Linked DNA regions of Homo sapiens: region 2 is linked to region 1. The links come from fine-mapping of genetic effects on gene expression. A gene starts in region 1. The other region holds a variant in brackets. All regions are shown on one strand. Distances are between the middles of the regions.

The links. PIP is the estimated chance that this variant, and not a neighbour inherited with it, causes the effect.
Region 2: its variant is fine-mapped to the expression of PTPN4 in tibial artery (GTEx, PIP above 0.99). The same link has a PIP of 0.9 or more in gastroesophageal junction.

Annotation. Positions count from the first base shown.
Region 1 is chr2:119,758,458-119,761,361 of GRCh38, forward strand. PTPN4 (protein tyrosine phosphatase non-receptor type 4) reads left to right here and starts at 1,465. Exons shown (of 27, transcript NM_002830.4): 1 at 1,465-1,927. LOC101927764 (a long non-coding RNA gene) reads right to left here and starts at 1,257. Exons shown (of 4, transcript XR_007087215.1): 1 at 1,175-1,257. RefSeq lists silencers at 1,007-1,116, 1,667-1,966 and enhancers at 1,156-1,450, 1,167-1,426, 1,697-2,321.
Region 2 is chr2:119,722,896-119,725,799 of GRCh38, forward strand. It overlaps LOC101927764 (a long non-coding RNA gene), which reads right to left. Exons shown (of 4, transcript XR_007087215.1): 3 at 1-2,904. It also overlaps a transcript of TMEM177 not described here. Among named protein-coding and RNA genes, the nearest start is that of PTPN4, 36 kb to the right of the region's middle. The variant C/T (reference allele first, on the strand shown) is at 1,529.

The DNA of each region.
Region 1 (2,904 bases):
TACATGTAAGCCATGTGGCTCACATGTGTAATCCCAGCTACTCCGAAGGTTAAGGTAAGATGATCTCTTGAGCCCAGGAGTTGGAGACCAGCCTGACAACATAGCGAGACCTTGCCTCTAAACAAAAATTACATATTGTATGATTCTATTTATATGAAACATTCAATTTCTGGTGGAAGTCTCATATGATCTTTGGTTGGAGGATGACTGGATGTTGACAGATGACAATGAGGTGAAGAGCATTTTAGCAGAGGGAATGGCATGATCAAAGACAAAATGGAGAGTCAGAGGCAGGAATGCATATTTAGGGAGGAATGAATGAGCACTGGCTACAACAGAGATCTGGGAAGAAAAGCAAGTGAAGGAAGTAAAGCTGGAAACATGGATTGACAAGTTGCCTTTTTCAAATGGAAAAACTAACAGGTGTGAGGGAGAAGAGAGTCAATAGAAATTTCTGTCTTTTCCAGATTTGTTCACATTCCCCTGATTTGTAGTCATTTTGTCGGCTTGGGAAAGTGGTTTTTGAAAGATCGTCTTTATAAAGGTAGGCTCTGATAGGATGCTCAAGCTAAGAGCAAGGAAGGACAAAGAAGGCGCCTGGCGACAGAAAAGGGCACTAACAAAAATTGGGCAAAAAGGAAGTGTGGCGGTCCCCAAATCCCTTCTTCCTCCATTTCAGCTGAGATCATTCGCCAGTAGGCAACTGTGGTATTACCAATAAGTTTGTATCACCAATAAAATATTATAATGCACCTGGCTAAAAACCCTGGCGTGATAACACCAAATTCATGTTATTAGAAGGAATTAAATTTTAAAAAGCACACCGTTCCAGGCACACAGAAGGAGCCCCCGAACGTTTGTTTTATAAACGCAGGTTGGTTGCTGAGGCTTTGTTTTGGAGCCTACGTTTAGGAGAGGAAATGATTCAAAACTGCCCCCCAAAACCTATATCCTCCAGGAGCACTGAGGTTGGGGCGACCTGCTGCCAACTGGTCTGGTTTTCCCTTTTAACACACGCTTCTTGCCCACTATCCGGTCCCTGCGGTCAGTGGGTGCAGCAGGGGTCGCAGTCCAAACAACCAATCGCGACGCGGCTGCGGGGCGGGGGCCACAGCGCTCCGCCTCCCCCCTCCAATCCGCCCTCCCAATCCTCCTAGGCCGCTCTCTCTCGCACCTGCGTGTCCCTCTGCGCTCCGACTGGTGCGACTTCTCCCTGCGCTAGCGAGGCAGGGTTTTGGCCTCGCCTCTCGCGAGATCGCCTCCTGTTGCTGCCGCCGCCGCTCCTGGCCACTGACTGGCGGCGCCTGCGCAGCCGCCATGTTCGGTTGCTATGCTGCGGCCTAGGAGAGGGGGTGTGCTTGAGGGAGGAGGAAGAGATAGAGGAGGAGGAGGGGGAGGAAGAGGAGGTGGAGAAGGAGGGGGGTGACTGAGCTCCTCTTGCACTCTCACACACAAACGCTGCCCAGGATTACCCGCCAGCTCACGCCGCGCAGTGCGCTTTTCCGCTCCTCGCGCCCCACCACCAACATTGTTCTCTCAGGACTCCTGGGTCCCAGGGGCCGGAATTGGGCCTGAGCGGGAGAGGAAAGAGACTTGGCTTTGGCCGCGGGGTCGGAGGATTGGGGCCAGGCCCCCTCCCCCACGCACTTTTGGGGGTGTGGATTATCTCATCCCTGCAGGGAGGTAGGAGAGGTCGCCGGCTGCCCGCCTCCCTGCCACCTCCCCAGCGGCGCCGGCCCGCGGCTGCCCAGCAGCATGAGGTGGTGCTGGCGGCTCCGGGTCGTGGCGCGACCGCTGCGGCGGCGGCTGCTCGGGGGGCGCTGAGGTAGCCCCCCGGAGCGGCACGGAGGACGCGCTTCTCCTCTGCGCGCCGGGGCCTCGAGGCTTTTTTTCTCCAGCCGAGAGGACGCGGCTGTGATATACGAAGGTAAGAGGTTCTCCGGTCCCCGCCGGCCTCTCGGCCCTGCACGTTGAACGGGAGGCTCTTACCTGCATGTGTGGCTCCTGGGAGGTGAGCCAGGTGGGGCAAGCCGGAGGTACGAGGATGATTTGAAAGGAAGGAAAAAAGGACAAAAACAAACAAACAAACAAACAAAAAAACGCTTTCTTTCCTTTCTTCCTGGGACCTCTGCTTTTGCGGGGGTTATAGTTGGAATCTCTGTTATGGGTCAGCGAAGGGCCAAGGGATGGAATAGGTGCGGAGATGGAATGTTCCCAGTACCTAAACTCTAGGTAAAGCTTTGGAATCTTGAGTTTTCCATTGCTGGTAGAATTCCTTTTTTTTTTTTTTTTTTTTTTGGCTCATATGAGCGCTTCTTGCACGCTGCATGAGCCAACTATTCCTACCATTGAAGTTTTAAGCCTGTTATGATTCTACCAGTATATACCTGTATTTGGGAATCTGTAGTTGAGCCAAAAAAAAAAAAAAAAAAAAAGTTGAGATGTGGGTAAACAGTGATGCATTTCGCAGGGTTTCCATAAAATGGAACAGCTTACAGTTGCACAGGTGATGTGTGGATGTTTCTGCAAAACTTAGGGTGGAAGATTTTATGTCTGGGCTTGCATCATGTAGTGACATCAGTATGTACAAGGACGATTTGTAGGATTTTTCAAAACGCCTGTTCTAGGATAACTTGTTATGCATCTGCAATATGCCAGCTGCTTTTCGAATAAGAGGTTTCAGTAATACTAAGTTTCTGTGTCCAGATCTTGGGCCCAGTTGAAACAGTACAGCTGATTGGTCACATTTAAAACATATTTATGGAGAAAGATAAAAGGCCAATGTGTCCGACTTGCAAAAGACAATTAGAGTAGAAAGAAGACTGGAACAGTAAAAGCCAGGGCATTTTTAAATCTTGGTTTTCTGAACTTTAACGTGCCAGAGGAAAAAAATTTTTTTTCAAT
Region 2 (2,904 bases), 36 kb before region 1:
TATGCAACTGTGTGGCCCATTCTTCCTTTGACACTAGGAACATTTTAGCTAACTGAATTTGAATTTCAGCTATAACAATTAGTTGGCCTTCCTAGACTACACATCTATGCTCCTCTGTATCTAATCGTGACTCTCTACTCCTAGTTTTCTCAGGCCTAATTCTCTACTTCTTTGTTTTTGTTTTCCCAGCATCATTTTGTTGTAAGTATCCCTGCTATAAGCCATCTTTGTGGAAAGAGATGGCGCAAAAACAGACGAGTAGACAAACCAAATGCTTTATAAAAAAGCCATCGAAGACACGTCAAGGAAGCCACTTTCCACCATTTATTAAATAAATTCTTTCCCAGGCCGGTCTGAGTCGCACCCAGACTTTACATCAGGCTTTGTTCCAGGTGGGTGGGGGTGCCAAAGGGAATACTGCGGCCTGAAAGACATCCAAGGAAAAAGGCTTCTTTTAGAGGCAAGTCCACATTACACAGTTGGCAATGCTAAGCTGAACGTCCTCCCAGCTTCCAGGGGGAAATGAAAGACATTCCCCCCATAGCTTTGCTTTCAAGCTCTTACAGCTGGCAGGGCAGGAGAGCCAAGTTCCGCCTTTTCAATGCAGGTTGTCACTTGGGTGCCAGGATCTGCTGATCAATTAGCCAAACATCCAACGTGAGAAAAAGGCCCAGCACACATCTTTTTGCTTAACTGTCATTAAATGCTCCATTTAACCCCAAAGAACCTGACTTTCTCTTTTTTTCATCTGCTATAGCCCAAGAACACCATTACTAAAGAATTTTTCTTGAAAAATTACAAAGGGAAGCAAAAGAAAGAAACATGATTTCTGAGCAGACCTCTCCTTCGCAGTTCTGCACCTGAGGCTCTTTGTTCTTCATGGGATCTGAGGTCTGGGAGGGAACTTGGGGATTCTCGAGAGTCACCTCATTGTACAGATTGAGAAGCAGATGCCCTGAGAGGTACAGTGACTCACCCAAAGTCACACAGCTGGTTAAGGGCAAGGGGAGGGCTAGACCCACATCTCCTGACTTTTAATTCACTCACTAAACCACATGCTTCTCCAGTACCGTACACTTAGCCACAAACTCTTTGAAGAGATTGAATAATTCAAACAGATGACGCCCTTGTAGAAGGACAAAGTGCGGGGCAGCCTCACTTCTATGTAAACCAACAACCCAAATAGCATAATGAAAGAGCCCAGTTTATTTTTCTTGTCACTCAAATTAAAATCATTTACAGGCAGACATTCCCTAACTCACAAATAAGCTGTGTCCTAACAGTGTGTTTGGAATTTGCTATTTAGAACCCAGGATGTGTTTTCTTCCTGGGAAATCACATGATCGAGTGTGGTCAGAACCCCAGGCCAGGTCACAAAGGGCGACTTAACCAATAAGTAACCACCGTGGAGTCGAAGGAACCCTTCATCATATTGTCTCCATGAAAAAACACATTCCAGGTTTCAAGTAGGAATAGTGGAAACGCAGCTATCCCACCAAGGTCCCAGTGCAAAGATGTCCCTCCCAGG[C/T]GCCTGGTGGGGAGCTGGGAGGTTAGGCTAGGTAAGAGCTAGGAAGCCGTGCAGAATTGTGAACTGGACATGCGCTTTGGGTGGAGACAGAACAGGTTTCCACTCCACTACTTAATAGCTGGGCAAGTTCCTTAACCTCTCTGATCCTCTGAAAAATGAGGATGGCAACAATACCTCACTGGTAAATTATAAGGACAAAAGAAGACAATGTCTGTTAAGAACCTATTTCCGTGTCTCGCATGTGTCAACAGGCTATCATTTATTATTGTGGTTGCTTGGGAGGAGAAGGACGGGCTCTGGTGGTTTGGAGAGCTGGGATGCTCCATTTGAGGAGGCAGCATCTGGGGTGAGGAAAGGCTCTTGCCATAGCCTGATGGGCAGGGGGCAGTGAGGGGACCCTGGGTTCTTACCCCCCATCCCTGCGCCTTAGGCAGTAGAAGTGGCAGCAGCTGTGGTTCCACCCCTGTCTGGGAGGAGGCGGCAAGGCCCTGGTGGGGCCCACAGTGGCCACTCCAAGCAGCCTGGTTGTTGAGAGGGTCGCCCTTGGCAGTGCTGGCTCATAAGCAGCTTCAGCCTTCCCCTGCCCTCTGTCATCATTCCTCCCCATCCCCGGGGGACGTCCCTGGCAGCTCCCACAGTGCTTCTCGGCCCTTTCAAGTCTCATTTCAGTGACTTAAAATGTCCAAGACAGTGTAACATCAAACTTTAAATTTTGTTAAGTTCAGTCTCCTCCCACAATCTGAGGCTTGCTCCAGGCTTAGAAGCGGCCTGAGGAGGAGTCGGGGGTCTGTGTTGCTAGTCTCTTCTCTCTCCTGGCTCTACTTCCAGCCCCCATTCTCACTAGCTGGGTTTCAGACCATCTGAGGCTAGGCCCAGAGGGAGAAGGGAGGGAGTTGAGCACAGCAGTGTGATCTGGCATGGGTCCTCTGGGTGTCTGATGCATGGGTGTTAGCTCTGTCCCCAGGCCCATGGCTCCAGAGCCCCTCAAAGCCCCTCACACCTGTCTTGAGGTAGGAAGGAAGTGCCAGAATCTTCCCCCAGAAATATGGTGCTCACCTGACCCAGTTTGCCTGGGACTAAGGGGTTTCCCGGGATGCAAGACTTCCATTGCTAAAGCCGGGAGAGTCCCAGGCAAACCAGCAGGAAACAGTCACCTGACCCAAGGGCGGCGGGCACATCATGACACTCAGCTCTCTCCCAAATAACCCTTTTCTCATGACTCTTCGGCCCAAGTGACCAGTGGGCTAGAGCTGGCAGGCCAGGTTTACACCTTCCTGGCAGGTCCTGCACAGGCAGCCTACCTCATGCTAGTAGGCAGATTCTCGGAATCTTCTAAATGGTTGTCTCTGGGGCCCCTGCCTAAAGTAAGACTCATC